Linked DNA regions of Homo sapiens. The protein of the gene in region 2 interacts with the protein of the main gene of each other region in a pairwise test. Each region holds a gene or a part of one and is shown on either strand. Other genes may lie near its edges.

Evidence for each region. The genes of interacting proteins can lie anywhere in the genome.
Region 1: the proteins of CNKSR1 (region 2) and CYTH4 interact in binary tests that used the Homo sapiens proteins (3 or more experiments, as listed by UniProt).
Region 3: the proteins of CNKSR1 (region 2) and CYTH1 interact in binary tests that used the Homo sapiens proteins (3 or more experiments, as listed by UniProt).

What each region holds. Positions count from the first base shown.
Region 1 is NC_000022.11:37,285,493-37,292,511, reverse strand, and holds part of CYTH4 (cytohesin-4), read right to left. Parts: intron 1-7,019. UniProt on the Homo sapiens protein: Promotes guanine-nucleotide exchange on ARF1 and ARF5. Promotes the activation of ARF factors through replacement of GDP with GTP.
Region 2 is NC_000001.11:26,172,563-26,180,496, reverse strand, and holds the start of CNKSR1 (connector enhancer of kinase suppressor of ras 1), read right to left. Parts: upstream 3,007-7,934; 5' UTR 2,950-3,006; coding exon 2,898-2,949; intron 45-2,897; coding exon 1-44. UniProt on the Homo sapiens protein: May function as an adapter protein or regulator of Ras signaling pathways.
Region 3 is NC_000017.11:78,779,270-78,786,824, forward strand, and holds the start of CYTH1 (cytohesin-1), read right to left. Parts: upstream 3,005-7,555; 5' UTR 2,955-3,004; coding exon 2,933-2,954; exon of another isoform or gene 2,787-2,932; intron 1-2,786. UniProt on the Homo sapiens protein: Promotes guanine-nucleotide exchange on ARF1, ARF5 and ARF6. Promotes the activation of ARF factors through replacement of GDP with GTP.

The sequences.
Region 1 (7,019 bases), on a different chromosome or scaffold from region 2:
CAGAGGCCCACCTCCTCCAGGAAGCCTCCCCTGACTGCCCTGTCTAAAGCAGCCCCTGCTCCCTCCTCTCCTGCCCTGCTTCCTGTTTCTCCCACCCCCCTGGATAGACACCCCCAAAAGGATCCTGTTTCCTTGCATCTTTTCTGTCCCTCCCGCTAGACTCTCGGCTCCATGAGAGTTCAGTTGTTCTACTCTTTTGCTCACTACTGTGTCCCCAGCACCTAGAAAGAGTCTGACATGTCATAAGCACTCAGTTAAACACTCGCTGAAGGCACGCATTCCTTCCCCGGAACTTGAATCTCCTCCTCCACTGGCTCATGGGCTCATTATTTATTCACTTATTTATTTGAACAACCAAGAAGTGGTATACCATTTTCCTCACATCCCATTGGCCAGAATGTAGTCACGTGGCCACACCTAGCTGCAAGGGAGGCTGGGAAATGAGCCTGTAGCAGGGTGGTCCTGATGTCCTTACTGTGTAAAATGGGGAGGCTGGATTTGGGGGATATTTTATAGTCCCTGCCCCTGGATACTGGGGCTCAGAGAGGTGAGGTGACTCAACCCACAGGGAAAAGGTCACTGAGCCAGGATGGGACCTTGAATTGGGCTGACTCCAAAGCCTGTGCTCTTTCATCTCCACTTGGAAATGAATTAAATGAAATAAGATTTGTGTGTGCGGCATTCTATGCAAGGTGCTGTGATGATGCCCACAACTAGGTCAGCTGTCCTATCTTCATGCTTCATGGTGGCTTCTGTTTCATCCACAACACTCTCCTTCTCTGAGTAATATGGCCTCCCTATTACTCAGAGAGAAAGTCTTCATCCTGGGCCTGGGGCCTCCACAACCTCTCCAGCCTTGGCAGCCAGACTTATTCCCTGCCATTCCCAAAAAGAGCCTGCCAGTCCAGCCTGCCAGCTCCTTCCTGCTCCAGAGCCATCCAGGACTCAGTCCCACTTCCCCATGTTTGCCCAGGCCGCTCCTGTACTCTGGGATGCCTTCTCCTGTCTGCCTGCCCAAATCCTCGCTGACCTTCAAGTTCCAGCGTCGGGAAGTGCCTGGCCGCATTTCTTAAAGGTTTTACAAGGATAGACATCATTTCCTCCAAAAGAACACAGAGGGAATGTTGAGCGCTCCCTTTCCCTACTTCTCCTTCTCATGATTAAGCAGGCATTGTGGCTGTTGAGATTAAAGCCCCATGCGGAGATGCAGGGCACCAGGCTAGATGGAGCCCAGGTCCCCAGGCAGCGGTGTGGAGAAGACTCATCATGTTCACCTGGCCCACCTATCCATTTGGACTTTTCAATAAGAAATAAATCAGTTTTGAGAATGTTTCGGTTGCTGTTATTCTGAGTCTCTTTAAGCAGCTAAATCTGAGATATACCTAATACAGCATCCTCATCTGTGAAATGTGAACCATAACCCTTGCCTCACAGGGCAGCTGTCAGGAAGGAAAGAGCTACACTTTGTCAAACACCCAGCAAGAATCCAACATATGCTGAGTCCCACATGTGTGCAATGGGTGCTGTGTGCATCTGGCTCTTCTCTTCAGGACCAAGGCACCATCCCCCCAGCTGCTGGGAGGAAAGCCTGCTGATGGCTCACAGCTGAATCCCTCCCCAGACACTAGCCTCAGCCAAAGGGAGGTGCCACGCCCAGGAGTTCCCCTGACCAAGGGCAGCCACTGCAATAAAAAGCCAAGTCCCGGTCAGGCAAGGTGGCTCACGCCTCTAATCCCAGCACTTTGGGAGGCCGAGGCGGGCGGGTCACGAGGTCAGGAGATCGAGACCATCCTGGATAACACAGTGAAACCCCATCTCTACTAAAAATACAAAAAATTAGCCAGGCATGGTGGTGGGCACCTGTAGTCCCAGGTACACCGGAGGAGGCTGAGGCAGGAGAATGGCGTGAACCTGGGAGGCGGAGCTTGCAGGGAGCCCAGATCATGCCACTGCACTCCAGCCTGGGCAACAGAGTGAGACTCTGTCTCCAAAACAAAACAAAACAAAACAAACAAAAAAACCCAAGACCCCTTGCCTGGTTTCAGGACCTACCCCAGTTTTCAGATACAGAACGTCGGGACTGAAGGAGAGGCTGGGTTCCAAGGGAAGAGTCCTGCAACATTGTGGCAAGTATATATGGCAATGACTCCCTGGTTCCACATTAAAACACCTGTGGCCATTCACTCCAACAACTGTACACTGGGGAAAGAGCAATATCCAAACATTCTGAGGATTGTTGGACACAGGATCCAAGTTGACATCAGCGCTCAAGACTGAAGTGTCTTCAGGGCCACATTTGAGTGGGGGTACATAGAGACCAGGTGGTAAATGAAGTCCTTCCAGGTCCAGCTCACTAGGGGTCTGCTTGATTCATGGCCACTTTCCTGGCCTACAGATGTAGAATTGGAATGGACATCGCTGGTACTTGAGCCCATATTGGTACCTTGGCCCATGGGGTCAGGATCATTGTAGTGGGAATAGCTATTTGGAAATTTATGAAGCTGACCCATCATCCCCACAGCGAAGAGACTAAATAAAAAACTATATCCTGAGGGGAATGGCAGGTGTGGGTGCCACTCTTGAGACCTAACGGATGCAGGAGCAATGGCCCTCATCACATACCCAAGCACTTCCCCGGTCGGGAGGATGGCCTGCTCCTTCCAGCTGCTTCCTTCTAGCAGAGAATTATATACTATGCAGAAAACAGTTCCTGGAATGGCACCGGGTCCTGGTAGAGATAGAGTGCCAGCCCACGGAACATCATGTAACTAAGTAGCTCAGATGGCTCCATCTGTCCCACTAAGTCAGAAGGTCAAGCGAGCCCAATAGTAACCCTTTGTGAGTGGTACGTCCAGGAGCAGGTGTGAGCAGAGCCAGAGGGCTCCAGTAGGCTCCAGGGATAGGTGGCCCAGATCCTCATGTCACCGCTGCTGGTGGACCAGGGTCTATCCCTCTGCTTACACCGTGACCACATGGGTGGGTCCCTTATGACTTTCTAACAACAGAGGAAAATGCCCAAGGCTGGTTGCAGAATGAGTTGGCTCAGAGTTTGGGCGCAAGTGAAAACCAGGCAGCTACTGAACTACAGTCCTGCTCAAAGGTGTCCTGGAAAGACAGTGATGAGGGCAAGTCCTCCCAGGGGGCAGGGCTTCAGGCAGGGCACCTGGCCATCCACTTCCTGTGGAAAGAGAAGTGACTTCTTGAAGTCAGAATATCCATGCATCATGGGCAGTGGTGAATGGCTTGACTTCTTGGTCAGAGGCAAGAAAGAAGGAAGATGGGAAGATCAGAAACACAGATGTCAGGAGAAGAGGCAGGTGGATGACCCCGTGGGAGCGGAATGTCCACTCTGCCAGCAACAGGGACGCATGCTGAGCCCATCTTTTCTCCAGAAGACCAGGGGGCAAACTGATTCCATGAAACCCCTTCTATTCTGCAAAAGTCAACAATCCATCTTGTCTGGAGTCGACACGTGTTGGAAATGTGTTTGCCTTTCCTGCCCACAGAGCCTCAGCCAGCACCACTATCCAGAGGCTTAGGGTGTTTGACCCACCAACACAGCACACCACATAACATCACAGAAGACCAAGGGATGCTCTCTACAGCAAAGGTGGTCTGAAGTGAGCACGTGGCCATGAGATCCACCGATCCTCTCTAGCATTTCATCGGAAGGTGCTGGCCGGATGGAATGGAGCCATGGGGCGGTCTTGAGAAGGTACAGCTGAGGTGTCAGCCTGGAGGTGATATCCACTTGGATGGGGCGCCATCCTCCAGGAGGCACCATATGCCCTAAATCTACCACCACTGTGTGGTGCTCTGTCTCCAGCAGGTGGACCACAAGGGTCTACGAGCTGAGGGGTAGGAGTGGGAGTGGCCCCACCTGCCATTCTCCTAGTGACCCACTCTGGAGTTTCCTTTTTTTTTTTTTGAGACAGTCTTGCTCTGTCACCCAGGTTGGAGTGCAGTGACATGATCTTGGCTCACTGCAACCTCTGCCTCCCAGGTTCAAGCGATTCTCCTGCCTCAGCCTCCCCAGTAGCTGGGATCACAGGCATGCACCACCATGCCCGGCTAATTTTTTATTTATGTATTTATTTTTTTGAGACAGAGTCTCACTCTGTCACCAGGCTGGAGTGCAGTGGCACGACCTTTGCTCACTGCAACCTCTGCCTCCCGGGCTCAAGGGACTCTCCTGTCTCAGCCTCCTGAGCAGCTGGGACCACAGACATGAGCCACCATGCCCAGCCAATCTCTGTATTTTTAGTAGAGATGGGTTTCACCATGTTGGCCAGGATGGTCTTGATCTCTTGACCTCACAATCTGCCCACTTTGGCCTCCCAAAGTGCTGAGATTACAGGCGTGAGCCACCGCACTGGGCCAATTTCTGTATTTTTAATAGAGACGGGGGTTTCACTATGTTGGCCAGGCTGGTCTCGAACTCCTGACCTCAGGTGATCCACCTGCCTTGGCCTCCCAAAGTCCTGGGATTACAGGTGTGAGCCACTGTGCCCGGCCCACTCTGGAGTTTCTTTCTGTCTCTGCAGGTCTAGAGGTACTGTTTCCAGGAGGGAGTTGGCGGGGACACTTATACCAGGGGACAAAGCAAGAGTCTTATGACCCGTTAAGCGCACAAACACCTACTCCATGCCAGTCTCTGTATAACTGCTGTCATTTAACCCTCTTTGAAGTAGGTATTTTCCAGTTTGAGACACTGAGGCTTAGGAAGGCGAAGTGACTCGCCCCAGGTCTCATTCACAGGAAGTGGCAGTGCTGGGAACTGCACCCTTGTTTGCTGACCCCCACGCCTCTGCCCCAGGAGAGGTGGATTCCCAAACTGCTTGGGACATGCAGGGATGGAAGGTGTAAGGGGCCACCTGTGTGGAGATGCAGAGCAGGGACAGCCGGGGAGGCAGTGCTGGAAGCTGGCTCCGGAACTCTTCCGGCAGGAGCTGGCGGGGAGGCCGTTGGTCTCATCCATGGGAAAAAACCAATCACCTTGGGTTGCCTTGGAGGTGAACAATCCGATTCTGTTTTGTTTTGTTTGTTGGCTTTATACAGTTTTCCTGTTGGCTTGGGGTTGTGTTTCTGCCCAGGGCGCACCTGCTGGAGGAGGCTGAGTGGATTCCAGACTGGCTGCTTGTCTGAGAGAAGCCAGGGTGGGCTCCAGCATTCCTACAGATGCTCCAAGGTGTGGATGGCCAGAATTGAGTGATGGGGCTCCTGAAGCTCCTCCTAGGCCGACCTTCCTGGTCCCCATGGGGCTTCATCAGCTCCTGGCTCCCACCTGCCTTCAGGGTCCAGGGAATCATTCACACATCCTCTGTTCCAGCCCCTTCTCTGAGCTTCAGATCCAACCATCCCCTATGTATTGGTCACCACCGCTCTTGTCATTGTGCCCAAAATTGAACTTCTAGAATGCCCCCTCCTCCCCATCCTCTTCCTGAATTCCTGAGCTCTGGAAATGGTCCACATTTCCCCAGGAGGCACTCTGACTCCCACCTGGCTGTCACCCCTTGGGTCTCCTCCATCACCAAGTCCTGTCTATTTCTTTCCCCTTCCATGGCTCCACTGTCATCCCAGCCGCTATCGCTTTGCTCAGGGGGACTTCAGGGCTTTCGGATGCCTCCCTGCCTCTTCTACCCATTCTGGTCCAGTTTCCCATGGCATCCCATTGTCCTGGGGACAAAGACCCCAAATCTCACCAGTCCTGCTGGTGTATCCCCTCCATGCTCCTCTCACACTGTGCCCCTCCCCGTCCCAGCTCCGTGCTCTGCCTCCCTGGCTGCCCTTCATTCACTCCCCTGAGCTCTAGCCTTCCAAAAGCCTTTGCACCACCATTCCTTGTACCCAGAACGCCCTTCCTTCTCCTCTCTGCCAGCAGCCCCTCCTTATCTCCTACTTCAGATCCCTTTTCAGGGGTCCTCCTGGGTTCCATCTAGGAGCCATCCCTGCCCCCACCCCTTCCCATTCCCCACAGCGTTTCTGGGATCTGCATGGCTCAATAACCAAGCCACGCCGTTGGTTAAGGAAGGCATGGTGGCTGAGCACCCATGGTGCGCCAGGCCCTGTGTGATCCAGGCTCTTCCCATCCACTCTCATTGAATCCCACAACCACTCCGAAAGGAAAGGTACTTCTAAGCTCATCCTACAGGTGAGGCCCCTGAGACTCAGAGACGTGAAGTGTCCTGCCAAAGGTGACACAGCTGGAGGGTGGCAGAGCTGGGATTCACATCTGGGTCCATCTGGGGCTCGGAGGCTTACAGCCCTGATGTTGATCTTCCGAAGGCTGATCTCTCCATACGAACCATCAAACACCCGTCGGACGCTAAATCTGGGTTTCTGACGGGGTTACACGTTTCAGAATAAAGGCAAGATGCAGAATGATGCCTGCAGTTGCCCCCACCCAACCCCTGCAAAGCCAACTTTGCAGAGCTGGGGAAACTGAGGCACGGTTCCCAGGGGAGTGGGATTGCATGGGAATAGTGAGCAGGTTGCTTGTATTTTTACTGCATACAGCTCCTTTCATACTCCCTTCTGGTTGACAAGTGTGTTCGTGAATCCTCAGTCCCCTGTCCCCTTCTGACGGGGGTCCTGTCCCGAATAGGTGGCAACTGGTCAAAGCATCTGAACCCACATGAGGGTGATGATGGCCCCGGGCTTGCTGTGTCTTACATGGTGCACACGGAGCCTACTGACCCTTCCTCTATTTGTTAAAAAGAGGAGATTCCTCCCCATTTCAGAGTTTCAGGCACCGGTGTAGGCTCATGGGATATGTTTTTTTGTTTGTTTGTTTGTTTGTTTGAGACGATGTCTCTGTCTGTTACCCAGGCTGGAGTGCAGTGGCCTGATCTCGGCTCACTGCAACCTCCACCTCCCAGGTTCAAGTGATTCTCCTGCCTCAGCCTCCCAAGTAGCTGGGATTACAGGCGCCCACCACCAGGCCCGGCTAATTTTTTTTTGTATTTTTAGTAGAGACGGGGGTTTCACCATGTTGGCCAGGTTGGTCTCGATCTCCTGAC
Region 2 (7,934 bases):
CTGCCAGTCCTCAAAGGGATAGTCCTGCAGGGAGTCGTCAAGACCTGGAGGGAGAGTAAGGCTCAGCTCGGGGAAGCAGAGGTGTCAGGACCTTTTGGGATGGTTCTTCATGCCTGCAAAGCTCTTTTCCCTCTAGTCTAACCCTAATGACAACTCTGACACCCAGGCTGTTCTGCCCATTTCACAGATGAGGCCACTGAGTTGAGAAGCAGGAAAGTATAGGACATGGGTTCTTAAAAGTGGCCCCCAGACCAGCAGCAGCAGACTCACCGGAGAACTTGTTAGAAATGCAAATTATCAGGCCTCACCCCACACCTGCTGAATCAGAAACTCTGAGGTTGGGGCCCAGCAGTCTTTTTTTTGTTTTTGTTTTGTTTTTTCTTTTTGAGACAGGGGCTTGAGACACAGTCACGGCTCACTGCAGCCTTGACCTCCTAGGCTCAATCCATCCTCCCACCTCAGCCTCCCAAGTAGCTGGGACTACAGGCACACACCACCACACCCAGCTAATTTTTGTATTTTTTGCAGAGGTGGGATTTCACCATGTTGCCCAGGCTAGTCTCGAACTCCTGGGCTCAAGCAATTTGACTGCCTCAGTCTCTGAAAGTGCTAGAATTACAGGTGTGAGCCACGACGCCCAGCCAGCAGTTTGTATTTTAATGCAGGTGACTGTGATGCTCCCTTAAGTTTGAGAACTAATGATACAGGGGATAAGAACAAGAGGCTATGGAGTCACTGAGACACTGTGAACACTTGAGCAAGTAATAGCACTGCTCTGTGCCCAGTTTTCTCACCTGTAATGTGAGAATAATAAAAGTACCTACCTTCTAATCATGTGTGTATTGAATGACACAACATATGTCAAGGCCTTGGCCACTGTCTGGTTCGTGGGAGACAGCCAATAATAGCCATCATATTATTATTGCCAGACTTTACCATGACCTACAGGCCCTGTATGATTAGGCTACTACCTCCCTTTCCAGCATCATATCCTGAAGAGCCCCCTAAACTCAACATTTCAGATGCACAGAGCTAATTCCTTGCAGCTCCTGGAACACCCTTTTACCTCAGCGTCCTTGCAAGTGCTATTCCTCCTGCTGGCGTTGCTCTTCTATCTCCTTCACTTCCTTTTTCATCTAACTTCCTCCAGGAAGCCTTCCATAACTTCCCAGGCTGAGTGGGATGGAGGGCTCTCCTCTTGTTCCCACTGCCCCTGAGCCTCCACAAACCCCTGCACTTGACCATCGGTCTTTCCCATTTTATCACAGGCTCTTCAAAGATCAGGCCTTAGATAACCATTTGTCTCTAACCCCCGGCCTGTGCCTGGACAAGGTAGGCACTGAAAAATAAGAAAAGTGTCTATTGAGGGCTTACTATGTGCTATGCAAATCTATAAGAGCTTTACACATATTAACACATTTGATTCTCACTGCATTTCTAGGAGGTAAAGACTATCATTATCCTGCTTACAGATGGGAAAACTGACACAGAGGTTAAGTAGCTTGCTCACTCTTCGAAGGAATTCTTCCCCTTCTAAGCCAGGCTCCTTCACTGGGGGAGGTGTGTGTGTGTGTTCCCTGTGTCACATTGAGAGCACTGGACTGGGAGTTCATGAACCTATCACTCCCTGGCTATGGGCCCCTGAGCCACCTCCTTCCTGCACGGTGACTGTATTGGGCTGGTGCCCTCCCAATAGACCCAGGCATTGAGCTACAAATGAACTATGTCATGATTGTCTCACTTTGTCGACTTCATAAGGTCAGAGTTGCCTTTCCCATTTGATGGACAGAAAAACTAAGACCTATGGTCACAGAGCTGGCAAGCGGTGGGGGTGGGCCTGGAATCCAGCCTGGGAGTCTGAACCCAGCCCTGAATTCCTGCCCTTACCCGGGCTGGTCCTCCTGAGCCTGTCTCTAGTGCGCTCCAGCTCCCCACTCTGGGAGGGGTGTCCTGACTGCCTGCTCCTGGTCGCACTGTGTGTCAGGAGGCCCTTCCTTCTCTGAGTCTGCCTGTGGGGTGTGTTGCTTCCCATCTGTGTGGGCTCGCTGAGCCTGGACAGCACCTTGCCCCTTGGATAGGAGCCCCAGGGTGGGGCTGTGTCAACCTCTTCAGTCTGGCCTAGGGCTTCTGCTTCTGTCACTAGGAGCTCAGGGTGTGGAGCGGGGAAAATGACACCAGAGACTGAGCAAATCATTTCCTGGCTCTGTGTGTCAGTTTCTGACTCTAAGAAACGGATTTAACAACAGCCCACTGGCCCTGGGGCCAGGGAAGATGAAGGAGATACAGTGGGTGTGGGCCTGTCAGGCCTCCCTCCTGTTTTCATGACACCGCCTCCCCATTATCACCCTAGAGGCCTCTTGGGCTACTGCCATGATGAGGGGCCCCCTTCTGGGTCCTTGGGCCCCCCAGGGTCATCTCATCTGTCTCTCTGCCCAGCACGGTTCCTGGAACATGTTAGGTGCTCTGTAAATATTTGTTGACTGACTGACCGACTGATAGAGCCCGCAGTTTATTATTTTTTTTTTTCTTTTGAGCTGAATCTCGCTCTGTCGTCCAGACTGGAGTGCAGCGGTGCAATCTCGGCTCACTGTAACCTCTGCCTCCTGGGTTCAAGCGATTCTCCTGCCTCAGCCTCCCAAGTAGCTGGGATTACAGGCACCTGCCACCACCCCCAGATAATTTTTGTATTTTTAGTAGAGACGGGGTTTCACCATGCTGGTCTTGAACTCCCGACCTCAGGTGACCCACCCACCTTGGCTTCCCAAAGTGCTGGGATTACAGGTGTGAACCAGCGCACCCAGTCCGCAGATTTTTTTTCCTTTTCCTCTCCTCCCGCTTCCCGGTGGGACACCACACCTAGTCCCCTTCAAGCCCAACTCTACCCCAGCCCCACCCACCTCTCAGCCAAGTTGCCACCTTTCCGGGGGTCCAGGTCTCTACCGGTTCCATGGCCCAGCTCTGCCAGCTCGAATCAGCTCCTGTTTTGCCCTGCTGTCGCCGGAATTTCCGCTCCCAGAGCCCAGGCCTAAGGAGGGGCCGGGCTGGGTCCTGGGCGGAGCCTACTGCATACCTGGGCTCACACAGACGGCAAGATGAGGCACTGCGACAGCCATTGGCCCACGCCCGTCCGCCTCCTGCCCGGCCCTTCAGACATCCTAGGGCTCTGGCATCTCGCGCCTGCTAGGGGGCAGTGCCACTGGCCTCATATCGCGGGGTGGGACCCTGACCCTTGGGCTCCTCAAGAAAAAGCCACAAGAGGAGCGCTGAAATCAGTAGCAAAGCACAGAGGCTAGGGGGCCAGGTCCCTGGGTGCCTAGGCCAGCTCTTGTTAGCTGTGTGACCTGGGGCTGACCCTAACTTCTGCGCCTCAGTTTCTGGGTCTGTAAAAGAGATATAATAGACCGTACTTCAAAGGGCAGCTGTGCACAGTATCTGAATGGCTTGAAAACATTTAGAACTGGGGTGTTTAGCCTCCCTTGGATTTTGCAGTATGGACTCTGGCATCTGGTGAGGCCTGTGAATGCTTTCTCAGAATAGCTGCTTATAAAGGCATAAAACAGGCCGGGCGCGGTGGCTCACGCCTGTAATCCCAGCACTTTGGGAGGCCGAGGTGGGCGGATCACTTGAGATCAGGAGTTCAAGACCAGCCTGGCCAATATGGTGAAACACCATCTCTACTAAAAATACAAAAAATTAGCTGGGCGTAGTGGGTGCTTGTAATCCCAGCTACTCAGGAGGCTGAGGCAGGAGAATCCCTTGAACCCAGGAGGGGGAGGTTCCAGTGAGCCAAGATCGTGCCACTGCACTCCAGCCTGGGCAACAGAGCAAAACTCTGTATTATAAATAAATAAATAAATGCACAAAACAAAATGCTTAGGATTACAATGAGAACAATTATCAAAACTATATTTAAAAACAAATTTGGCCGGGCATGGTGGTTCACGCCTGTAATTCCAGCACTTTGGAAGGCCAAGGCGGGTGGATCATGAGGTTAAGAGATGGAAACCAGCCTGCCCAACATGGTGAAACCCCGTCTCTACTAAAAATACAAAAATTAGCTGGGTGTGGTGGTGCACGCCTGTAGTCACAGCTACTCAGGAGGCTGAGGCAGGAGAATCGCTTGAACCTGGGAGGCGGAGGTTGCAGTGAGCTGAGATCACGCCTCTGCACTCCAGCCTGGCAACAAAGCAAGACTCCGTCTCAAAAAAAAAACCCACAAAAAACAAAAAAAAAATTTGGAGCTGGGGAGTGCTGGCACACGACTGTAGTCCCAGCTACTCGAGAGGTTGAGAGGTTGAGCGGGGGAGTATCACTCAAGCCCAGGAGTCAAAGCCACCCTGGGCAACATAGCAGGAGCCCATCTCAAAAAAATAAAACCAGAAATTTATATTATGTGTTTACTAACATTAATAAGACTGGCCGAAAGTTAAATTTTTCTTTTTTAATGACCTCAGTGTGTTGTCGACCAGCTTGAATAAGGACATTAAACTGTGGGGTGGTCTTTGACGCCCCTCCTCTTACATATTGATCAGCAAACAACTAAAAACAGGGAATGCTGGGCCGGGCATGGTGGCTCACGCCTATAATCGAGACGGGCGGATTATGAGGTCAGGAGATCGAGACCATCCTGGCTAACATGGTGAAACCCCGTCTCTACTAAAAATACAAAAAATTAGCCAGGCATGGTGGCGGGCGCCTGTAGTCCCAGCTACTCAGGAGGCTGAGGCAGGAGAATGGCGTGAACCCAGGAGGCAGAGCTTGCAGTGAGCCGAGTTCGCGCCACTGCACTCTAGCCTGGGCGACAGAGCAAGACTTCGTCTCAAAAAAAAAAAAAAAAAGACAGGGAATGCAGAAGAGTGGAGAAGCCCTACTCAGAACAGGCAGATTCGCCCTTTGGTCACTGAACCACTGCTAAGCCTGGAGGTAACCAATTAATGGCGGCTACATCACAGGAGCATCTGAAACAGAAGTTGCTCACGAACAATTTAGTGGTGGTTTAACAACCACTGTGATTTTGAAATCACTTGAGCATAAATATTTTGAGATACTTGCAATAACTACAATTTGATATGAAAATATGTGATTTCTATTGGTGACTAAGCCAAAGATACTGCTACTGCTTCAATCCATATAGAAGGAAATCATAAATTTTGGTTAGAGTTTAGCAAAAATAAAAATATAATTTTTTCCCATCCAAGTTTATGGATCCCCTGAATTCTGAACCTCAGAGCAAGAGCTTTAATCTTAGAAAAATATCTGACACATAGTAAATGTTCATTTTCATCATCATCATCAGGTCAGGGGACTCCCAGGACTTTAGAATCAGATAAAATCAGCCGGGCGTGGTGGCTCAGGCCTGTAATCCCAGCACTTCAGGAGACCTATGCGGGCGGATCACCTGAGGTCAGGAGTTCGAGACCAGCCTGACCAACATGGAGCAACCCCATCTCTACTAAAAATACAAAATTAGCCGGGTGTGGTGGCACATGCCTGTAATCCCAGGTACTCGGGAGGCTGAGGCAGGAGAATTGCTTGAACTCATGAGGTAGAGGTAGCGGTGAGCTGAGATCGCGTCATTGCACTCCAGCCTGGGCAACAAAAGTGAAACTCCACCTCAAAAAAAAAAAGGCCGGGCGCGGTGGCTCATGCCTGTAATCCCAGCACTTTGGGAGGCCAAGGCGGGTGGATCATCTGAGGTCAGGAGTTCGAGATCAGCCTGGCCAACATAGAGAAGCCCTGTCTGTACTAAAAATCCAAAAAATTAGCCGGTCGTGGTGGCGGGCGCCTATAATCCCAGCAACTCGGAAGGCTGAGACAGGAGAATTGCTTGAACCCGGAAGCAGAGGTTGCAGTGAGCCGAGATTGCGCCACTGCACTCCAACCTGGGCAACAAGAGCAAAACTCTGTCTCAAAAAAAAAAAAAATCAGATAAAATCAGTTCCATACTCAACTGCTATGTGACTCAGCCCAACTTCTACAGCTCTCTGAATCTGTTTCTTTGTCTCCAGAAGGGGATTCCTAGGCCTTAGCACTGTGATGACATTAAGTACTTTGAAATCTGTATCATGGGGTAGATATGAGTTATTATTGCTTTAATTCTGTGGGGAGGAGCTACCTGTTGTCACCTACTTCAGAATTTCTGCAGCACCCCCAGTCATCAAAGCCTGTCACGACCTTACCTGTAACCCAGAGACCCAAAGTCTGAATTTCGCCCATGGTTGGCCCATGTAGTGTACGTGTGTTGTCATCATTTAATAACGTCACATCCAAATTGAGATTTCCAGCTTCTCTGAACTTGGCCAGCTCTGGTGATGCCATCCCACCTTCACACTTGGTATTAACAGCCTCTTTCATTTTGTGAGCCAGTTGGCTTCAAATTTGCAAAATGCCCGTCTCCAGCTTTGTCTTTTGCCTCAGGTCTGTGTCCCTTGAACACTCCGTGCTGCATCCTCGTTTAACATTTTTGCCTCTTCATGCAGCAGCCTCCCTGTGGCACTCTGGGGAAGTCCAGTAAATTCTAATAGAGCCTTTATCAGTGTTCGGTAGACAGATCTTGATTTCATCAAATATCTTTCCTGAGCTGCCACCAGAGGTGAGAACCAGCCCCCTCTCTCCCTGAACCACGGCGCCTTTACTCTACGCTCCCAGCATCTGCCAGGGTTAGGCAGTTAGGAACACAGTAAGTGGCAGCTTCTATTTATTTTTATCTATTTTTTTGAGACAGAGCTTTGCTCTTGTTGCCCAGGCTGGAGTGCAATGGCATGATCTTGGCTCACTGCAACCTCCGCCTCCCAGGTTCAAGCTATTCTCCTGCCTCTGCCTCCCAAGTAGCTGGGATTACAGGCGTGTGCCACCATGCTCGGCTAATTTTGTATTTTTAGTAGAGATGGGGTTTCACCATGTTGACCAGGCTGGTCTCAAACTCCTGACCTCAAGTGATCTCCTTGCCTCGGCCTCTCAAAGTGCTGGGATTACAGGCGTAAACCACCACGCCCGGCTGACAACTTCTATTTTAAAGGGTTTCATTTTGTTTTTTGAGAGAGTCTTGCTCCGCTGCCCAGGTTGGAGTGCAGTGGCGCAGTCTTGGCTCACTGCAACCTCTCCCTCCCAGGTTCAAGTGATTCTCGTGCCTCAATCTCCCAAGTAGCTGGGATTACAGGTGTGCGCCACCACACCCAGCTAATTTTTTTATTTTTAGTAGAGACAGGGTTTTGCCATGTTGGCCAGGCTGGTCTCGGACTCCTGACCTCAAGTGATTCACCTACCTTGGCCTCCCAAAGTGCTGGGATTACAGGTGTGAGCCACCATGCCCAGCCTATTTTAAAAAGCTTTATGAATATAAAGTTCTACATATTTGCTGTATACATTTCAAAGGTAATAGGTTAAGTGAAAGAAGGATGTGCCCTTTCCCCAGTGTGTCTCTATCATGTTCCCCAGTGGGGGCCACTACTAAATTTGGGATATTCTTCTATTTTCTATATCTGCAGATAGTCTACATACTATTCTGCAAATTGTACTTTTTCTTTTTTATTTTTATTGGAGACAGGGTCTGGCTCTGTCACCCATGCTGGAGTGCAATGGTGCAACCTCAGCTCATTGCAGCCTCCACCTCCTGGGCTCAAGTGATCCTCCCACCTCAGCCTCCTGAGTAGCTGGGACTACAGGCATGCACCACCATGCCTGGCTAAATTTTTTTTTTTTTTTTTGGTAGAGATGAGGTTTCACCACGTTGCCCAGGCTGGTCTTGAACTCCTGGGCTCAAGCCATCTGCCTGCCTCAGCCTCCCAAAGTGCTGCCCAGCCATACTTTTTCATTTAAGAGATAATCGATAGCAAATGAAATAATACAAGTTAAGTGCTTAGAACAATGACTACTATTTTTAACGTATCACGGGCAGCTTCCTTAATTGGTATATGCAGATATGCTTTTATTAT
Region 3 (7,555 bases), on a different chromosome or scaffold from region 2:
CATGCCTGTAATCCCAGCTACTCAGGAGGCTGAGGCAGGAGAATCGCTTGAAGCTGGGAGGCAGAGGTTGCAGTGAGCCGAGATTGCGCCATTGCACTCCAGCCTGGGCAACAAGAGTGAAACTCCATCTCAAAAAAAAAAAAAAAAAAAAAAAGAAAGGGGAAGAATAAACTTACAAACTTTCTCATCTTCGTGTGTGGCAGACAGAATAACAGCCCCTAAAGAAGTCCGGGTACTAATCCCCAGAACTTGTGAATAGGTTACCTTACATGGCAGAAGGGGAATTAAGGTAACAGATGGAATTAAGGTTGCTAATCCTTAGCCTTGATTATCCAGGTGGGTCCCACTATAATCACAAGGATCTTAATAAGAGGGAGGTAGGAGGTCGAGAGAAATGAGAAGATGCTACCTGCTGGCTTTGAAGATGGAAAGGGGACTATGAACCATGGAACACAGGTGGCCTCTAGAAGCTGGAAAAGGTAAGGAAATGGGTTCTCCCCTGAGCCTCCAGAAAGAACCAGCCTGTCCGACACCTTGGCTTTAGCCCAGTGAGACCTATTTTGGACTTCTGACAGCAGAACCCTAAAACAAATGTTATGTTGTTTTGAGCCACCAGGCTTGTGGTAATATAACAGGTATAGGAAACTAACACGCCCTGCTTCCACTTACCTCTTTCAAGTACAAGTTCATGTCATGCCTGGTGGCAAAGCAGTCACTGTATTAAAAGCAACCAGACCAATAGCTTCCTGCCCACGGCAGCAGGCAAGAACACAAGAGAGGCCACAAAAGCCTGGTAGGCAGGACACTGGGATCTGAGGGAAATTAAATGGCAAGAGGAGGCAGAGAAAAGAGCAGCAGGCAAAACTGCTGTCGGCTTCTCAGCAGTGGGCAGGAGTGAAATCTGGAGGGGCTGAACAATCTTTTGGGGCCAGCCAGTGGGTGATTTTTCTTTTAATCACAAAAGGAGGCTGGGAGCAGTGGCTCATGCCTGTAATCCCAACACTTTGGGAGGCCAAGATAGGAACTGGAGTTCACACCAGCCTAGGCAACATAGGGAGACCTCCCTCTCTACAAAAAGAAATAAAAATAATTAGCAGGGCGTGGTAGCCCAGGCCTGTAGTCCAGGTTACAGGAGGGGCTGAGAAGAGAGGTGAGAGGATTGCTTGAGCCAAGGAAGCAGAGCGTGCAGTGAGCTATGAGAGCGCCCCTGCACTCCAGCCTGCGCAAGAGAGCTAGACCCTGTCTCAAAAACACAACAAAACAAACAACAAAAAAATGCACAAGCTGCTTTTACTTGTTTACTTATAAGGTAACAAGTGGGCTGGGTGTGGTGGCTCAGGCCTGTAATCCCAACACTGTGCGAGGCAGAGGTGGGAGGACTGCTTGGGTCTAGGAGTTCAAGACCAGCCTGGGTAACATGGCAAGACCCCATCTTTTAAAAAAGTAAAAAATTAGGGCTGGGCGCGGTGGCTCATGCCTGTAATCCCAGCACTTTGGGAGGCCGAGGCGGGTGGATCACCTGAGGTCAGAAGTTCAAGACCAGCCTGGCCAACATGGCAAAACCCTGTCTCTACTAAAAATACAACAATTAGACAGGCGTGGTGGCACGCGCCTGTAGTCCCAGCTACTCAGGAGCCTGAGGCAGGAGAATCGCTCAGCTCACCCAGGAGGCCGAGGTTGCAGTGAGCCGAGATGGCGCCACTGCACTACAGCCTGGGCGACAGAGTGAGACTCCGTTTCAAAAATAAAATAAAATAAAATAAAATAATAAAATAAAATAAAATAAAAAATTAGCCGGGCATGGTGGCGTGCGTATGGTTCCAGCCACTCAAGAGGCTGACGTGAGCTACGATCACGCCACTGTGCTCCAGCCTGGGTGACAGAGCGAGATCTCGTCTCTTAAAAAAAAAAAAAAAAGAAAAATGTCCCATTAGTTATTAAACTAGAATTGGGTTCCATTTGGCCACAGAGTTCTGCTTTATTTGTACTTTGCTACCAAACCACAAAAGTTCACCACTTGTTCTATTTGCCATTCTTCCTTTTAATTCCTCATGAACAAACTTAATAAATTAACTACAGCATGTCAAACAACCTTTTGCAACCCTTGCAATTTCAAACTCTTGGAGGGAGGCACCCCTGGCCTGGGCCAGCAGCCTCAACGCGCGGGAGCGAAGGGAGCGGGACAGCGGCTCCGCTTGCCAAGTCCCCAGTCAGGGGAGGAGCGGCGTCCCCACCGCGGTGCCCCTCGGGCTCCACACCCGCGTCTCGGCAGGCGGCGACGCACCGGACCGGCGGCTACCGGGCCCAGACTCCCGCGGGCAGGGCCGTCCCGGAGCCCGCGCCTCGCCGGCGGCGCCGCTCCCCGTTCTCATTTCTGAACAAAGACGTGGACCGGGCACAACTCGCTGACGCCGAGAGCGGCCGGAAACTGCGGGGAACGCGGGCCCGGCCATCCGCGCGTCCGCCCCGAGCCCCGCAGAGGGGCGGCAGGGCCAGCGACCTCCACCCCTCGGCCCCCCGGGACCCGGACTGCGACCCCTGCCCCGGGGACCCCAGCGACCCCAACGACTCTCATCCCTCAGAGCCCCTGAGATCCTGCCCCGCGACCCCAACGACCCTCATTCCTCAGAGCTCGCGGCGACCCCTGGCCCCGCGAGACCGCGAGCCCGGCCTGTGACCCCCGCCCCAGCCACCCACATCCCTCAGCGCCGCCAGCGACCCCGGCCCCGGCGACCCTCATCCCTCAAAACCCCCTGCGACCCCCGCCCCGCGAGGGCCCCGCGCACCGCTCGCCCGCCGGTCGCCCCGGGCTCCGCGTCCCGCACCAGTGTCCCCGGGAAACGCCAGCCGCCGCAAGCGCTGCCGGACGGCCGGGCCCGGAGGGGACTGGGGGACAGCGAGGGGGAAGCGTCCGCCGCCGGGGCGCACTGACCGTAGCTGTCGTCCTCCTCCATGGTGCGGGAGCCGGGCTCCGCGCTCCGGCTCGCCGCTCGCGTCCCGCCGCGCCACCCGCGCCCCCGCTCGCCTCAGCCCGGCTCGGAGCCCCGCCCCCGGCGCCCCGCGCCCCGCGCCCCGCCCGCCCGCGCCTGCGCCTGCGCCCGCCCCCTGCCCCCGGCCCGAGGCCCCGCCCCTCGCCCGAGGCCCCGCCTTCCTCCCGCGCGCGCCGCACCCCGGGTACCCGGCCTCCTCCCGAGGCTCCGGCCTGCGCACGCGCGTCCACCCGAGGCTCCTCCCCTGCCCCCGCCTCTAGACCACGCCCCCGTCCCGAGACACACACACCCCCCCCCCTTCTCCCGGTCCGCCTCCTGGGGCCGAGCAGGTTTCGGTTTCTGAAGGGCGGTGCAAGTCCCCGGGGTGGCGGACTCGACCTGGCCTGCAGCCAGGCTACTGCACGAAAGCCCAAGGTCGTGTCCGGCCACTGAAGGGCAGGGTGGTCCTTGCTGACGCCAACCTGGAAGGTCAGACCCGGCCCCAGCTTGCCAGGGAGGGCCCGGTCCTTGGCGAAAGGCCACAAAAGCTATTTGAAGTCATTTACTCCTGCGTTCAGAACCTTTACATGCTGTATGTCCTAAGTTTACTGCTTCTACTTCTTTTTATTTGTCCTGAGTTTTACCTGGGTCAAGATTGAAAGGAGGGCACTTCAAGTCCCAGCGTTTTGGATTTTATTTATTTATTGGAGACGAGTTTCGCTCTTGTTGCCCAGGCTGGAGTGCAGTGGCCCGATCTCGGCTCACTGAAACCTCCGCCTCCCGGGTTCAAGCGATTGTCCTGCCTCAGCCTCCTGAGTAGCTGTGATTACAGGCATGTGCCACCAGGCCCGACTAATTGTATTTTTAGTAGAGACGGGGTTTCGCCATGTTGGCCAGGCTGGTCTCGAACTCCTGACCTCAAATAATCCGCCTGCCTCGGCCTCCCAAAGTGCTGGGATTACAGGTATGAGCCACCGCGCTCGGCCTTCTCTTTCTTTATGACAGAGGACAATCCCACTGCTGCAGAATGCCAGCACCAGAACCCCCCTTTCCCCCTGCAGTCACTTGTGGCTCCTGCACCCTACACAGAACACTCACTGAGAACTCCACAGAGATCCCTGGACTGCTGGGAATTTTTTGGACCAACCAAAAAACGGGAGTAAAAGCCACAGAACTCTTTCCTTGTGGGCCCACCTGTCCTGAGTTTTACTATTTTTCTTTTTCTTTTATTTATTTATTCATTTTGAGACAGAGTCTCACTCGCTGTGTTGCTCAGGCTAGAGTACGGTGGCACCATCATGACTCCCTGCAACCTCTGCTTCCCAGGCTCAAGCAGTTCTCCCACCTCAGCCTCCTGAGTAGCTGAGACTGCAGGCACCGGCCACCATACCTGGTTAATTTTTGTATTTTTTGTAGAGACGGAGGTTGCTAGGTTGCCCAGGCTGGTCTCGAACTCCTAGGCTCAAGTGATCCTTTCTCTTTGGTCTCCTTCCTTGGCCTCCCAAAGTACTGGAATTACAGGCGTGAGCCACCACGCCTGGCTGGATTCATGATCTTAACCTTCACTGACTTTACCAGATTGTCCAGTTTTACAGGTGACCTTAGAGAGTCACATTTTGGCCCTAACGTGTCCTTGGGCTTCGGCGTGTGAGGTCAGAGACCCAGCTGCATTTTGTTCCTCTTGGCCTAGACTTAGGACACTTTTAGAATTGACCCCACATTGACCTGGCAAATCTTCTCAAACCATCTGTCACATGGGCTAATGGAGCACTGAGCCTCTCCCCCAGTATTTGCCATCCTCTGTTTCACTCCCTACTTCACTTCTAACCCCAGACTCACCAGAAGGTTCAAGGTATCTTCGAGCTGGCTTTCTTCCCTTATCAGTATGCAAGTCCCAGACCACCTCAGCTCTTGCTCAAAGACCAGAACTCCAGAAGAAAAGCGATTCAGATGGCATGTTAATTCTTACTATCAGCACTCTAGACCTCTTAGCTGAACTCACCAACTGAATAGATTTGGAGAGGGAGGGATACTGGTATTACTGCTAATCACAGATTAGCAGAGAACATGACTGTTTACAAATTCTGTTCCCTTATATTGTTCCATTAGACTGGTGTTTTTCAGCTGGGTGAAGTGGTTCATGCCTATAACCCCAGTACTTTGGGAGGCCAAGCTAGGAAAACTGCTTCAGGGCAGGAGTTCAAGACCAGCGCGAGTAACATAGAGAGACCCTGTCTCTACAAAAAATTAAAAATTGTCGAGCATAGCGGCACACGCCTGTAGTCCTAGCCACTCTGGAAGCTGAAGTGGGAGGGATCCTCTGGGCCTGGGAAGTTGAGGCTTCAGTAAGCTATGATTGCACCACTGTGCTCCAGCCTGGGGGACAGAGTGAGACCCTGTTTCCAAAAAAAAAAAAAAGAACAGTGTTTTTCAAACAGCGGGTCATGACTCTTAATGGTTATGAAACAAATACTTATTAGATGAAAAGAAAATAGAATTTTTAAAAAATTGTAGTCTATCACACATAATACAGAGACAGTGTTTGTTCTGGTTGCAAATGAATGCATGCATGTGTCCACTGGGTAGGGCTATCCCTGACCATGGATGACTGTCAAAGAAACACAGAAGCTACTCCATTAGATCACATTCATGATCAGAGATTTTTTTTTTTTTTTTTGAGATAGGGTCTTACTGTGTCATCCAGGCTGGAGTGCAGTTGCACATCTCGGCTCACTGCAGCCTCCACGTAGCTGGGATTACCACCATGTGCCACCAAGCCCAGCTAATTTTTGTGTTTTTAGTAGAGACAGGGTTTCGCCATGTTGGCCAGGCTGGTCTTGACATCCTGACCTCAGGTGATCCGCCCACCTCTGCCTCTCAAAGCACTGGGATTACAGGCGTGAGCCACTGCGCCCAGCCAGAGAGGTCCTTTAGCTGTTATCTTTGCATGACATTTGGAAGCCGAGGCTAATAGACATCCAAATGCAGCCTACTTGCAAGCAGGAGTTAAGTCAGTTTCACTCTCGTATCTTGTATTTGTGCCCCCAGCCCTTGGAGCGTAATGAGAAGGAGCCGGCGGCAGGGAGACAGGAACCACAGGACTCCACTCCAGCTGTGGATTCTAACCCAGACCTCTTCCCCCACATCCACTAATTCTTCACAGAACCTTTAAACTGGGTGTGGGCTCTCTGCAAGTTTCGCTGTGGTTTCTAAGTCCTTAGTGGTTGATCCACTTGACAACTAATTTTTTTAAGTTGGTAGCTCCCTGCGGTATTTGACAGTTTTTGGTTTGGTTTTGTTTTTGAGACAGGGTCTCACTCTGTTGGCCAGGCTGGAGTGCAGTGGCTCATGGCTCACTGCAGACTCCACCTCCCAGACTCCATCGATCTTCCCACTTCAGCCTCCCAAGTAGCTGGGACTACAGTTGCACGCCACCACACCCAGCTAATATTTTATTTATTTATTTATTTTAGAGACAGGGTCTTTCCATGTTGTCCAGGCTGGTTGTGAAATCCTGGGCTCAAGTGATCCACCCACCTTAGTCTCCCAAAGTGCTAGGATTACAGGCATGAGCCTGCTCCTGGCCACCCTCTGGTATTTTCCACTGTTCCTGGCACATACCTCCCTTAGCTCTTGTTACAGTCTTTTGTTATAATGTTGGTTTAGGCCTCAGGAAACAATCTCTCTGGCCTTCTCTTGTTCTTTCACCTGCCCCAAGGCAGGACTTTAATCTTGCCCACCTTTCTGATTGTGGGTCTTAAGACCCTCCCCAGAGAGGGTCCTGCCCTGTGCCCTATGGAAGGAAGCTTCCATAAAAATTTCCATTAAAAAAAAAAAAAAAAAAAGACTGGGCTAGGATAGCTGAACATGTGGAGGTTCCTGGAGGGTGATGCCTAGGGAGGGCTTGGAAGCTCTGTGCAAGGGCCCTTCCCCATCTCTTCATCTTTATCCTTTGCAATATCCTTTATAATAAACCACTAAATGGCCAGGCGTGGTGGCTCATGCCTATAATCCCAGCACTTTGGGAGGCTGTTGTATCACCTGAGGTCAGGAGTTCGAGACCAGCCTGGCCAACATAGTGAAACCCCGTCTCTACTAAAAATACCAAAATTAGCCGGGCTTGGTGGCGGGTGCCTGTAATCCCAGCTACTCGGGGGGCTGAGGCAGGAGAATCGCTTGAACCCGGGAGGTGGAGGTTGCAGTGAGCTGAGATCGCGCCATCACACTGGGGGACAAGAGCGAGACTTCGTCTCAAAAAAATTAAAAACAAACAAAATACTAAATGTAAGTGTTTCCCTAAGTTCTGTGAGTGGCTCCAACAAATTAATCAAACCCAAAGAGCGGGGGTCATAGAAATCCCAAGTTTAAGGTGGTCGCTCAGAACTTCCAGAGGCCCAGGCTTGTGACTGCTGTCACAAATGCAGTCTTGGGGACTGAGCCCTCAGCCTGTGAGATCTGACCTCACTCCAGATAAGAGTCCAAGTTGGACTGGATGAGAGGACCCCCAGGTAGTGTCTGCTGCTTGGTGTGTGGGGATAAACCCCCACGCCTCTGGGCAGAGCAGTCTTCTGTGAAGATTGTTGTGA